Homo sapiens: one gene and its partner. The main gene of each other region encodes a partner of the protein of the gene in region 2 in a complex. Each region holds a gene or a part of one and is shown on either strand. Other genes may lie near its edges.

Evidence for each region.
Region 1: the proteins of SCN7A (region 2) and SCN3B are in contact, whole or in part, in a cryo-EM structure (PDB 7TJ9), measured with the Homo sapiens proteins. Residues at the interface, in NP_002967.2 of Homo sapiens: Arg269, Glu293, Tyr296, Leu298, Glu299, Leu305, Gln315, Cys316, Pro317, Glu318, Gly319, Tyr320, Asn922, Ile923, Thr926, Cys927, Lys929, Ile930, Phe939, Ile956, Tyr957, Asp959, Gln960, Ile966, Tyr970, Met973, Ile974, Tyr977, Ile978, Leu981; in NP_001035241.1 of Homo sapiens: Val25, Cys26, Val27, Glu28, Val29, Arg44, Ile46, Lys50, Arg51, Glu52, Glu53, Val54, Asn95, Gly96, Ser97, Asp99, Gln101, Asp102, Phe126, Phe128, Ala130, His131, Pro133, Val135, Thr154, Ser155, Ser158, Glu159, Met162, Leu165.

The regions. Positions count from the first base shown.
Region 1 is NC_000011.10:123,651,621-123,659,064, forward strand, and holds the start of SCN3B (sodium channel regulatory subunit beta-3 precursor), read right to left. Parts: upstream 3,005-7,444; 5' UTR 2,606-3,004; exon of another isoform or gene 2,207-2,605; 5' UTR 2,182-2,206; coding exon 2,127-2,181; exon of another isoform or gene 2,065-2,126; intron 1-2,064. UniProt on the Homo sapiens protein: Regulatory subunit of multiple voltage-gated sodium (Nav) channels directly mediating the depolarization of excitable membranes.
Region 2 is NC_000002.12:166,491,234-166,498,431, forward strand, and holds the start of SCN7A (sodium channel protein type 7 subunit alpha), read right to left. Parts: upstream 3,017-7,198; 5' UTR 2,735-3,016; intron 2,624-2,734; exon of another isoform or gene 2,489-2,623; intron 1-2,488. UniProt on the Homo sapiens protein: Sodium leak channel functioning as an osmosensor regulating sodium ion levels in various tissues and organs. While most sodium channels are voltage-gated, SCN7A is not and lets sodium flow through membrane along its concentration gradient.

The DNA.
Region 1 (7,444 bases), on a different chromosome or scaffold from region 2:
CCCAAATTGTTGGGATTACAGGCGTGAGCCACTGCGCCTGGCGAAGGGAAGCTGTTTTTCTTACAGTTAACAACCAAGTGTCCTGAACCACTTCTCTTTCCCTTCCACAGCTTTTCAGTTTGGTGAGACAACACTCAGTTTGCAAAGAAACTGAGAATGGGCAAAGATGGGCATACTGTGTACACTTCTTCCAAAGTTTTTTGGGGTCGGGGAGGGGATGGGCACTCTGTCAATTCTAGCAATATTCTTCAAAGATTTCTCTACCATTCATCTGTGGAGCTGAAAAGGATGTTAGATATCACCCGTGCCAACTTCCAAACATTACACAGAAGGAACCAGATAGCACTTTAAGGTTGTTATATAGTAAGCTAGTGGCAAAGCTGAGACTCCAATGCAGGTTGCACAAGTTCTAGTTAAAAGATTCTTGGATGATAGCATGTTCTCTCCCTCCACTGGAATTCAGGCAGGGATCTCAAAATCTTAGATTAGAGTTCAGGAAGAAAGTCTCTGCAGAGTCTCACTCCAACCCTTATCCACAACTTCAGCTTTACCGACGCTCTTTTTATCTGGCCAGGCTAACATCTTCTAAGCCTCGTGTCCTCAGCCTTAGCCTCCCCTGAGAAAATTTCAGCCTTAATCTTCAAGGCAGGTGAGATCATTGGCAACATATTATAGCTGCTCCATCTCCAGGTCTGGTCTACTCTACTGGGGATGGCTGGTGATGAGTCCGCCTTTGGGGCTGACATTACCTCCCTCCTCAACCTTCCTAGTCCGTCTCATCAGGCATTTTGACAGGAAGCTTGGCTCTGCCTCTGGTCACATGCAAAATCCAGATAATGCTGGCAGCTAGAGTTAGTCCTGGAGGCTTGAAAAAGTAATACTAAAGCAAAGAGGCAGCTCCCATCAGCATGTCTGCCACCGTATAGGCAGGATGAGTTTCATGCCAACCATGGGAACATAAGCTCACATGCCTCGTTTCAGGGAGGCAGGTGGGTACAATTGTGTCCAATTACCCTGTGTATTGATTTTTGCACGGAGAAAGGTAGCTAAGATCATGTAAAGCAATCTGTCTGCTGAAGAGAACCTATATTTTATCTGAGGATCTAATCATAGACACCAAGGCAGACATGCCCAGAACTACCACCCCCACCCCTGCCATACACATACTACTACACTCACCCATGCATTCAGATGTCTATGCCAACATGCTCACACACATGCTAGTGCACACATCCAGACACTGAAATATATTTACATACAGTAAAACATTGTCTCAATCACACAATCAGACATTATCACATAGATCAATCCCCTTTACACACATTCAGGCACTCCAAGACCGTCTCTGACACTCTCTTCAGCCTTTACTGTTCCAAGTGTAAGATTCCCTTATTTGGAGGGGGAAGGTCACCTCAGTTTCTCACAGCTGACAAGCAAGAATCTATTCACCTTTGAAGGCAAAAACCCAGCTCTCCTCCCCTAACACCAAAGCATCTTAGTTCCACAGGTTCATGCAACAAACAAACAAACCAAAAAAAAAAGAAGAAGAAGAAAAAGAAAGATGCATTTCACAGTTGCCTATTTATTTAATATATAGCAGTAAATGGCTGAAGGCTGTTTTCTTCCCATTCCTTGTTAAAATTAAGAAGATGATGAGCAACTAAAGTATTTTCACTCTCAAAATTCATGCATCCAGCTTTTATGGTTTTTTTTTTTTTTTAATATACAGAAACGAATTTGAAGACCCAGTAAGCTTTCCAGGAGTATAGACTCCTTGATGAGAAATAAAATGTAACCACACAGGAGGTTTTTATTCGTGAACGTGACTGCATTTCCTTTCAGCAAAGGGAAAGGGAAAAAATACTTTGGAATGATCAGGAAACTGGAGGAAGGGCGGAAGAACCACCAAAGGAGGTTGGAGAATAGCGGGGAAGGGCGGTGGGGAGGCGCCTTTCCCATCTCAAAATCCCAGCTCTCATGGAACCCCTGCCATCTCCATGTCTGGCAGATACGCACAGAGGCAAGCCAGCCAGAGCTCTTTTCTGTCACCAACGACATCAATGTGTTATTATTGTTAGCATTGTTACTGTTACCTGCATCCGGCATGGCGAGGTGCTGGTACTTACCCCAGTAGATAAGCACGAGAGAAGCCAGGGGAAACAATCTATTGAAGGCAGGCATCTTCTGGGGCTGGCGGCTTCCAAGGCTACACAGAGAGATTCCCTCGGTCAAGGACTGCGCCCTCTCAGATTCTTTCGAGGAAACCCTTTGGGACGAACTGCCCCCAGGGGGCGACTTTCTGACCGAAGGAAGGGCCGAGCACCGGTGCCTGGGGAGGCCCTGGGAGCTTTTGGAGCCGGGTGGGGGCTTTGGGCCCTAAGCGACCCCACTGGACCTCCCCAGTTCGAGGGAGCCGATCAGCCGCTCCGCGCCCGCTCTCGCCGGCGCTCAGCACCACGGACAGTCGCCTCCCCGCCCACCCCGGAACTCCAGCTTCCACTCGCGCCCCTGCCTCGCTCGTTTGCGCCCAGGGTAAGCTCAGCTCGGAAGGGAGTCGCACTGCTGGCCTAGCAGCCAGGCTGTGGAAGGGTCCAGGTTGATTCACCTCTCGCCTCCCCAGGATCGGTTGCGTTCCGACTGGAATCCTCCCAGCCCCGCGGCTCCTGCTTCGTCCGCCCTAACTGCTTCTCCAGCTGGGCGTGACCCCACTCCCGAAGCCGCCGGGGCCGCCCGTCTGGGCTACAGAATGCGTTCCACGTCGGTCCCGTCCACGCCCGCCCTCGGCTCCCTGGGGAGGTGCAGCGGGGCCGGGAAGGAAGCGGCAGCTCCCGTTCGGCCGGCGATGTCAGAGGTTGGGGGGTGGGTGTAGAGGCGGAGCCCCTTCCCGGGAGCTCGCCCCCGGATGGTGCGGGGCCCCGACCCTGGGTGGCAGGTGATCAGCAACCCTTCTCTAGGCCCCCAGGCCGTGTGTGCTGTCAGCCCTGACATGCGCAGGCGGCTCTCCGCCACCACCACCGCCCCGGACCCTCCCCCTAGTGCACACTCCCCACCCCCTGATGGGCGTGCCCCTCCCAGGCCCAGCGCCGCGCCGAGCGGGGGCGGAGCCGGGAGCGGCGCAGACACTTCCAGCCGGGATATCTTTGCTCGCGCGCTCGCTGGTCTCTCCAGGTCTCCCTCTCGCGCCTCCGCACCTCCCCCGAGCTCGGGCGCACCGCCGCCCTCGGCTCACGCCCTCCAGGCAAACCCACTCCGCTCCCGCACGGACTTGCCGGGTGTAGCTCCGGGAAGAGAAGGGCCAGAGCTCTTTCAGGCAATGATGTCATCTGCAAGGCGCGCCGTACGCGGTTCCTGGCTTCGCCTCCCAGACCCCATGCCTTCCAGTTCTCGCTGTCTATCCTTTGTCTAGCCTTGATTAATTGGCCCCGGACACAGCAAACTCAGCAAGATAATCCCTGTTTAGGGCAAATGGGGTAGGGATGAGGCGCACCTGTTCCTGTCTTCACCTCATCACTCAGTGAGGTGATCCAAATGTCAGCGCAAGGGGAGGGGGGCCCAAGAGGACTCCTCTTCCCTTCCCCAGGTTCTTTGCAGTTCTCCCTTTTCCTTTAATTACTCCTTTTTAATAAAGCAGATAGATTGTGTTTGGCGTCTTCCAACTATTAGCCACTCCCTAGTCCTAGCAGCTGTTTGAGTGCCCCCGCCCCATCTCTGGAAGGGAAACCTGAAACTTTACATTCAACTATAAACTCAAATTGACATAACAGATTAGGAACGCCTGGAACTGAAGTAAAAGAGTAATCCAAGAGCCCTTCTTCAGCTTCCTTTTTCTCCTCTTCTGCTCTTTCCAAAAGGGGAAGCTTAACGCTGATATTCCAAAATGGAATAACAGAGCAACAGCTGACGGTGAGTGGACCAGAAGCAGGAAATGCTCCCTCCTGACATCTCACAGAGTAACAGAATGTCCCCAGTCGGATCTTCCTGGGCAGGGAGCCACCAGGCCATAAACTCTGTGCTGTTTGGAGGACTAGGCCTTGAAGCATGTATACTGTGTTAAATTTGGATGGGAAGTTAAAGTTGACCTAATTCAACCGCTTTTCCAATTTGTGACTTCCCCCAAGAACATTTCGGACGAATGGACTTGATTTTATTTATTTATTTATTTATTTATTTATTTATTTATTTATTGAGACGGGGTTTTGCTCTTCTTGCCCAGGCTGGAGTGCAATGGCGCGATCTTGGCTCACCGCAACCTCCGTCCCCCGGGTTCAAGTGATTCTCCTGTCTCAGCCTCCTGAGTAGCTGGGATTACAGGCATACGCTGCTACACCCGGCTAATTTTGTATTTTTAGTAGAGATGGGGTTTCTCCATGTTGGTCAGGATGGTCTCAAACTCACAACCTCAGGAGATCCACCCGCCTCGGCCTCCCAAAGTGCTGGGATTACAGGCATGAGCCACCGCGCCTGGCCTTGATCTTTTTAGTGATGAGAACTTTCTACATCACAAGTTCACCTCTTCTGATGCTTAAGGAAGTTCTTTATGTTCAGTTGAATTCCGTACACTCCTCCTCCCCCTCCAAACTCCATTAAGTGGCCCTAATGCTGTTTTCTCTTTAAAAGAGCTATGCTTCCTCACATCCGCCCTAAGACATTTTTGTTTGTGGCTACTCTTCCTTAGTTTCTTCCAATGTATTTTCTAGTAGTTTCCAATCCTGTACCACCCTGGCTGCTTTTTCAGAAGGACTTTCAGTTTCTCAGCATGATTCTCCAAGTGACGTCCAGAACAGGAACTGATGGTCCCTGTGTGGTCTGACCAGCATAAATCCAGTGGAATTATGGCTACATTTGCTTTGAAGGATATAACTAGTTAAATACATTTACAGCCACATCTTAGTCATAATCAGCTTATGTTCAATTAAAATCCCTGAGTATTCTTCACTTGACTTGTTGCAGAGTCATTGTGTCTTGTACAGGCAATTTTGGAAATTTTATTATGAAACTTTGCACTTATTGCTGTTAAAATTTATTAGTTTCAACCAGTTATCACACTGTGTTAATACTTTTATTGAATTCAGATTCAATCACCCAATATATCTCTCTTCTTTACCCTTGTTTCATCTCTAGGCTTGACAATCACATGATCCACACATGGATATTTAAAAAAAGAACCAATAGAAAAAAAGAAGAGATAGTCCTATGGCCTGCTTCTAAAGACCTCATTCTACCTTGACAATGAGCTACTAATTAACATTTTTGTTTGTTTGTTTGTTTTTTGAGACGGAGTTTCACTCTTGTTGCCCACGCTGGAGTGCAGTAGTGTGACCTCGGCTCGCTGAAACCTCCACCTCCCAGGTTCAAGCAATCATTCCGCCTCAGCCTCCCAAGTAGCTGGGATTACAGGTGCCCACTACCACACCCAGCTAATTTTTGAATTTTTAGTAGAGAGGGGGTTTCACCGTGTTGGCCAGGCTGATCTCAAACTCCTGACCTCAGGTGATCTGCCCGCCTTGGCCTCCCAAAGCACTGGGATTACAGGCATGAGCCACTGCACCTGGCCTAATTAAAATTCTTTAGAACAGTTGCTCAATCATAAAACCCAAACATAGCTCCCTATTTTTTATATGTACAGCATGAGACATTCTGAAAATTTAGAATAAAAGGAATCTGTGAGAGGAATTAGACATCTAGTCATCCACAGGAAAGAAATAGGATCAATGGCTTACACTAACACAAAAACAGATTTTCAGCAATACATTTCAAACCTTTCCAAAGTAGGACAAATTACCTTTCGTTACATCCAAGCAGTTGTTATCCAAACAACTGCTGGGATGTTTAGGAAGGAAAACCTGTAAAGGTTAGAAATTTGGAATAGATTATGTTAAAGTTCCTATCGTCTTTGAGGTTCTATGACTTTATTGAAAGCCTTACCAAGACTGAAATACACAGACAGACTGAAATATTTTCAGTCTGATAATTTTATCAACTACCACAGCAGGAATTGGCTCAGCTTTACAAAATTTTTCTTATGTCTATTCATGTGAATTGCTAATATTCATAATGTTGTTTTCTAATTGTTTATCAACCCCATTGTAAATAGTCACTGTCAGGATTTCACCTCTATTTTTCATATACCACTTCTTCCCTCTCCTGTATTGAAAATAGGAGCATTTAGTCTTTTCATTCTCCTGCTGTTTCCCTTGATTTTTGGCTGTCACTCTCAGTCACTTTTGCAAGTACCTTAAGTTCCCTGAAGTACTCTTGGCCTTGTTCTGAGAGTTTTAAAATCATTTAAATTAAGCTCTCCCTTCCTCTTTTCTGCCATTTTGGCTTCAATCCTTTCTCATTGTTGTTGACTTGGCCTCCCAATTTAATAATCATTCTCCCTTCACAGTTAATGGGTGAAACCATATGCTCTATTCTCCAAAGAGTAGACAGAACAGTCTTTGTATTCTAAAAGATGGGAACTTCTCTTGCTTAAAGCCCTTCCATGGCATCTCACTACACTGAAATAAAATCTAGACTTGTCACCATGGCCTAATGTTGGCCTTGTGCCCTGGCTATCTCTCCACACTCATTTCTACCACTCTCTGTCTTGTCCACCATGTTCCAATTACACTTAATTTTAAAGAAATGTACCTCATAGTTATCAAACTCTTCCCCACTATTAATATTTCCCATCATTATTATTATAGCCTTAGCATTTGATGTCCCCTCTTCCTGGAACATTCTTCATTCTATGGCTGGTTTCTTGTCATTTTGGTCTTGCCTCAAATGACTTCACCCTAGAGTGACATTCCCTGGTCACTCTAAGCTTGTTTCCTGCTACCTTCCTCACCTGAAGCTACTCTCTATCTCATCACCCTGTTTCTTGTTCTTCATATCTTCTCTCACTATCCAAAATTATCTTATTTTTAATATATGTACTTGCTTATTTTCTGTTCCTCCCATCAGGCTGGTTCTCCTTGGTGATAGATAGCAGCCTTGTTTGTTCTGTCTACTGCTGCCGTCCTGCACCTAGATCAGTGCCAAGCAGATATTAGGTCCTCTTCACAGAGGACACAAGTGAATGAATACACAAGGGAGTGAGAATAGTGTGGAAACAGTGAAGAGCTGAGGCCAGAATCAATAGGGGAACAGAAAACCAAGAGTCAGAGAAATAGGAAGAGACCCAGCAAGGTGCAATGCCATGGCAGGCCAGGGAAAAGAGGGTCTTTAGACTTAAGGACACTTCTCCTTTGAGGGGACTTTAGCTAATTATGCTCAGAGATTGAGGAAGAGGATGGAGTACAGAGCCTAGATATTCAGGGATCTTGAGGTGGAGGGAATGACATGACTCTGCTGAAGAAAGAATTGAATGGGAGCTATTCAGGGAGATGTTAGTTTTCTTGTGGAATGAAACACATTCACTGAGACTACTGGGGAGGAATTAGAGACAGGAGCAGTGGAA
Region 2 (7,198 bases):
ATAATTTCCATGAGTGGGGCCCCAGCTTCTGCATTTCTATCAAGCTCTTTGATGTCTAGGCAGTCAGTGTGGCACCTGACCCACACCATCATCAGAGCCGTCCATTGAGCTGGTTATCCTTGTCCAGCACCAGGCTGAGTCAATCCAATTATAAATACTGCAGAGACAACAGGGATATCTGTTTGCTAGGAATTTCAGGATGGAATATAAGAAGATGGCGCCTCATTTGTAATAAACAATAATTGAACAAATGAATGTAAAATAATAATCTTAGCTGGGTCAAGAGATATGCACCAACTCAAAAATAACCTCTGAAGCCCTCAGATGAAATCTTATCTTTAACTTCAAAGGCTCCTTCTTTCAATGTTGCTGCAATGAGACCTCACTTGTCTGGTTGGTTAGTCCTCACTAACAGAAGAGAAGGAACCAACGCAGGAAAAGAAAAGTGACATCTGTTTGTACAAGATTTTCTCATGTGATAATGGGTGACTGTGCATTGCTGATATCTGGAGTGGGGGTGGGGGTGGGCAGAGGTTATAGATGTTCTTCTCACACTGACAAATACTGAAAATGGTTAGTGGAAATAATGGGATCAGACTCCCAGAAATCAAGAATGTCCCTTTTACCCAATGCCTCCACCATAAGCTTTCAGGAGGGAGTCTAAGGCAGTAGGTAGATGGTGAGTCAATCTCTGAATACCCCAGTTGTGACACGTATCTCAACCCAATGAGATCTAGGGCTGGAGTGCAGATTTCCCAATCCCTGAGTAAGGGATTGGGGAAAATACTGTTATTTTTATTTCTAGTATGCTTTGGACAGGTATTTATCCTACTTTGGGAAAATCAGTGAGAGTGTATATCCGCTACCAAACCATCTACCACACGAGGCTACGGAGACAGAATGCCCAGTTTTGAAGTGCTTGGCTCTGCCTCCAGTACTCCAGTAGAGACTGATATGCAGCAGCAGGTCCAACGGTCGTGTGCCATCTGGGATCTGATGACCCCTTTTCCTGAGCCCATGTACAAATTGAGTTCTTTCTTCTATTACTTTAAACATATCCATGGGAAAGAAGGGACTCACAGTACCTATCCCCCAGGTGCAAGATTTTAATGAATCTTTGCAGTCAAGATTAGAGTATTTATGCCTAAATTTTGATTTCTCCTATGTTAAGTAACGGGCCAAATACATTCAGCAATATCCAATATACGTGATGGCTTCATCCCCAGGAAACAGGACTACAGACCTAAAATCAATTTTAAAACTAAAAACAGAAAGAGGGTAAAGCATATTTGGAGAATATTACAAGGTTTAAATATGCAAAGCTAGCCAAAGCACACACTTTTCACTTTTTTGAGGATAAAGGCTTTCAGATTAGAATATGCTTTAAACTGTACAGGTGGCAAGAAAAGGATTTGAATTTCACTTCCTCTAGTGCATTCTAGAGATGCATGTCAAAGCCCTCTGTATGCTTATATTGAATCAGACTTAGAAGGAAAATCAGAATAGTGAAGTAGATAAAAACACAGAATAATCCCTTATGTAATCAACAGTTACACATATGGTACTTTCATAAACCCTTTATATCATCTCTGTCAATTAGTTTTTGTCAGGACTTTTTGGAGTGTCATTTATAAATAAAGAAAATAAAGCTTACTCAAGTTAAATAATTGGCTTAATTTGTACAAAAATTGAAATCAAGTTTTGTAGTTCTAAATCCCAAAGACTTGTTCATTGGACTTCCCGCTCAATTACTGATTTGCCAGGTAGCCTCAGCAAATTACTCCTTATAGGTCTTACTTGTAAAAACAGCAGCTGGATTATAGAATCTTTAATTAAGGCTAGTCATAGCAGGTATGGTGCCCAGGATTCTGTTTATTACAGGGCCCACTTTCCTTCTACTTTGCCATAAATTGCTCTCCTGAATGAACAGCAGTGGGGTAAAGTATCCACAAGAAGCACCACCCAAACTCTTTCCCATTTCAAGATATTTTTCAGTCCAATATCCAAACTGGAACCCATCATTTTCGTTAATGAAAGGGGCCCATCGGTGTGTCATTCCACATGCACTCATCATTTGTCTTGTTTTGACCAATGTTCTAAGTTTTGAAGCTAACACAACCAGTCACACTATCACTTCTAAAAGAAAACCTCCAGAAGAGATGCATTTTATAGAGCAAAACAATGCAAAAACAACAACAACAATCTCTGTTGATCTAGTCAATACCAAAATGCCCAACTGACTAAACTGAGCACACCACTGCCAATCACATCAATGCCTCTACTTTTATACTATCTATTCCTTTGGGAAAATCAATCTTGAAATCTCTGTTATTTAGAATAAGAGATAGGATTCTTAGAAGAAGTGTACAACAATCTGCATAACCTTTCCTCCATTTTATACTATCATTGTACCATGTAATGTAAGTCATTGTCATATAGGGTTTCTAGAATTTTACACTAACAGAGAATGTTGGTTTCAGAAGCTTACCTGATGGAATTAGAAAACTGACGGCACATGCCATGCAAACACCCACAGACCACGGCTGCTCTTGAAGTATACTCTTGAAGTAACTCTCCTAATGCACGTCCACAATTTCAAATCTCTGTCCTCCTGCTGGGGACCCTAAGGGTGTGTATGGGATGGGGCAGGTGGGAGTGGATGGGAAAGGCTGGCAGCGGATAGCGGCTATCACCATTCTGGGACTGGACACAGCAGCAAGAAAAAGGCACTTACTTGCTACGAAGCGACAGGTCTCCACCAGTGCCTGAGGGACCCTTCAGGAGCAGGGCTCCTTGGAGCCCTTTCCTCCTCCTGGGCTTCTCTTTCTCCACGGATCTCTCGGGTTTTCTGAGCTCTAGTTGTACAGAAGCTGCTGTTAGGCTGGCGTCTGTCCTCACCAGCTGTGGCTCTGCAGTAAATGGGCCCCACTAAATGGCCAGTTAGACACCGACTCACTGGGGCGACTCTCCAGCCACTGACCCAGAGACCCCTCCTACCCAGATGTCCAGTGGAGCCGCGCCCGCTGCTTGGAAGCTGTTTTTGTCTCCTTTCCACTCCTCCCTCCCCTCTCCCAGCCACTCCACTCTCTCCCCCGCCCTAATCTCCAGGCCAGTGAGCGACTTCAGCATCCAGATCGGGCGTGGGCGGGTGATATTGACAGAGACCTGCTGCAGATGCAGTAACAGCAGCAGCTGTGGCGTCTCCTCCAGCAGCTGCCGGGAAGGGAGGGAGGAAGAGGAGCGGGGGGCTGATGAGGAGGGGTAGAGGGGAGAGGGCCTGCAGAGCGTGAAGGAATGAAGGGGCTAGGGAACATCCAAGGAGGAGAGGAAAAGGAGCAGCGCGGTGCAGCTGAGGGGGAAGGGAGAGTGAAAATGAGGGAGAGGAGAGGAAGACAGAAAACTCTGGTTCTTTAACCTCCAGTTGTATTCTCTCTCCCCTTGCCTAGGTGCCCCAGCAGAACTTAGAGGGGCAATTGTCAGCCTGCAGCATTCAAATCTGGACATTGCTGTAATTAAGAGTTTGTAATCCTGTTGTTGTGTGAGTATGTGTGTAGCTGTTTTTAGGAGAGTCAAGAGTCAGCTGGAGCTGGCTTTTACTCTGGATCAGTTTCCCACTCTAGTGATTTGAAACACGAGGGACAGAGGAAAAATTATGTTTATTTTAGAAAACTGCGGCAATACAGTGTAGTTTGGGAGTGAAGGCCAGAGGGGTTGCACCTTCTTCCCAAAGGCCACACCATAGAACCTTCATTTTGTAACCCTATTTTATGCACACATCACATCACTTACTTCAAAAATATATCAGCATATGTCTCTGAATGGTAAGAACTTAAGATTTTAACTCAATACCCTGATCACATCTATAATTAGCAATAATTATTTTGTAGCATCAAACATTCACTTGATTTCTTTATAATGGACAATTGACTGACTGCAGGCTTCTCTTCTCCACACTCTGGTGATGATGCAAATGAATTTTCTAGAGCATAAAACCTTCCCTTAGAGCAGTCTGACACATATATCCCTTTTCACCCAGTAAAATTCTACACACCTTTCTGTACATTCAAACACAATATAAATTTAATGAACTTAATATCAAATATTTCAAAGTTTCCATGTGATATTTAAAATAAATAAAAAGAAGTACTGCTTTTTATAATGTGTAATGAACAGGCAGTTGATCCCAAGATATTGTACAAACCAATCACATAAATGAGAGGCAAATAGATGGGAAACTAATGGTGTTGGTTTTATATTCTGAGTTAGCTAGCCATTTTCTTGTTTTGGAACAAATATTTGTTTTGGGACAAATATTTGGCACTACGGTTATATAACGGTTATGTAATATTACCAGGTTGGATCTGAAAAGTTTTGGCAATTATCGTGCCCCTAATAATGAGCTGAGGATCCTTCCTCCCCCACTGAGTTTCTCAGCAGGAGGAACTACATAGTGGAGGGTCTGTTTTCAACATTTCTGCCTTAAGAACTTTATAAGCATATTTCTAAACTCTACTTTCTAAGTATGTATTCAGTAGGTGGGAGCTCTAGACCCCACATACTCTTCTGTGTCAGGAGAGAAGCTGGCTGTATCACACTACACTTGAACTCGATACGCCACTGTGGGCATTAGCTTCCTTTCAGTCTGTTTAAATGGGAGCTGTTTATTGTGACCTCAGAGATGTCAGTGTCAGAAGTGTGGATGGACTCGATGTTTTAATTCTCAAAAAAGTCTCTACATCCAGAGTTGACAAAACCCTGTATAAAAAGACAAGCAAACAACTCTCCCAAAACACACTCAAACAAACCCAAAACTCTTTCTTTGGAGATATGTTCTCCAGTTTCATCATCTTTTTCTACCTGGCTACATGGTAGCCATTATGTTCTGCCTTTATGGACACTCTTATTTATTAAGAATTTATTCTGTGGTTGACAGTCTTTCCCTCCATTCAAACTCTTGCTTTCCTTCTTAAAAACTTTCTCATCCATTTGAATACCAACAACTATTTGGATGAAGCATCCAACAGCCTAACTTCTGATTTCATCCTTAATGGATTATCTTCTTCTCCAAATCATCTCTGCTATCAATTCCCACTTTCACAATTTGAATCCTATTGTAGTTAGCAACTGCTTTGTATTTCTTCTTAGTGCTTATCTGGCCTGTGAAATAGCTATTGCTTATATGTTTATTTTCTGTCTTGTTCCACTAGACTGCTTTCTGCATGACAGCTGAGACTTATTTATTTCCTGCTCTACAATAGCACTTGTAAGAGAGGATGTAATAGAGTAGGTACCCAGTATATTTGCTAAAGTATTGAGCATTATTCATACCTAATCCACTCTATGCTTTGTGGGAAAATGTGGAGATTCACTATAGGAATAGACCATAGATCACATGCAATCTAAAGAACATGAGAATTGTTTGTTGATCTGTTTCATTCTTAAAACCTGGTGCTTGGATGCTTTAAAGCTTCTATAATATACAGGTGTGAGAATTTCCTCTGGTTTCAGAATCTTGATATAAAGCATGAGCCTGCCTGAAAAGAAATGGTAATAAGAAAGTCCAGTCATGTCTATGGGGAATACCAAGGGATGCAGAGAAATAAAGCACTCAGCCTCAAACCTAAGCTATTTTTGATAATAGCCATTCTAACATGTGTGAGGTGATATCTCATTCTGACATTATCAAAAAGATGAATGATAACAAGTGTGGGTGAGGATGTGGAGAAAAGAGAACCCTGTACAGTGCTGGTGGGAATGTAAATTAGTACAGCCATTTTGGAAAATAGTAAACTCAAAAAACTAAAAATAGAATTACCATATGATCTAGCAATCCCACTCCTGGGTATATATCCAAAGGAATTTAAATTTCTATGTCAAAAGGATAGTTGCAGTCCTACTTTAATTCAGCATTATTCACAGTAGCCAAGATATGGAAGCAACCTAAATGTTTATTGCTGGATAACTAGGTAAAGAAATGTGGTATATATACAAAATTAAGTACCACACAGCCTTTACAAAGAAGGAAATTCTGTCATTCAAGACGAGGTGGTACTGGTGTACATTACGTTAAATTAAATAATCCAGGCACCAAATGATAAATGCCACATGATCTCACTTATATGTGGAACTAAAAAAGTCAATCTCATATAAACAGAGTAGAAATGTCGTCTCTAGAGGTTGGGAAGGGGAGGGAGAAGGAAATAGAAAATGTTGATCAAAGAGTACAAAGTCTCAGAATGGATGAATACATTTTAGTGATCTGTTGCATTGCATGGTGACTACAGCTAAAAATAACATTGTATATCTGAAAATTGCTTAAAGAATAGATTTTTTAACATACTACAAAAAAAGGATAAGCTGGTGAGACAATGGATATGTTAATTAGCTTGATTCAATTTTTTACAATGTATATACAAATCAAAGCATTACAGTGTACCCCATAAATATACAATTATTTATTAATTTACCATAAAGTAAAATAAAATAAAATGCAAAAAAGGGAGCTGTGCTTCTTGGAATGCATTCAGAAGGTAGAAGATCTAGACCCAGATGTTCTGCCTTGTCAAGAGAGAAACCTCCTCTATCACACTGCACTTGAACCAGATAGGCCCTGGGAGACTTTACTTTCCTTTTAGCCCATTTAAATAAGGGTTGTTTATTCTTACCTCAAACACATCAGTGTCAAGAGTGTGAATGGATACTTCCCACAGCCTTATTATAGGATAATATAAAATAGAGACTCATTTTGGTTCGCTGTCACAATGCAAGCCTAGATTTATTGAAAGATGAATATAATGTGAATCATATTGTAGAATCCTGTCTTCTGAATCATTTGAATTTTATGATTTTTTATTTTATTTTATTTTATTTTTTGAGACAGAGTCTGGCTCTGTCACCGAGGCTGGACTGCAGTAGTGCGATCTCAGCTCACTGCAACCTCCATCTCCCAGGTTCAAGCAATTCTCCTGCCTCAGCCTCCCAAGTAGCTGGGATTACAGGCGTGTGCCACCATGCCTGGCTAATTTTTGTATTTTTAGTAGAGACGGGGTTTCACCATGTTGACCAGGCTGGTCTTGAACTCCTCACCTCAAGTGATCCACCCTCCTCGGCCTCCCAAACTGCTGGGATTACAGGCGTGAGCCACATGCCTGGCCTTTTATGATTCTTAATACTTCATATATTCTTTTGCAAATGCAGG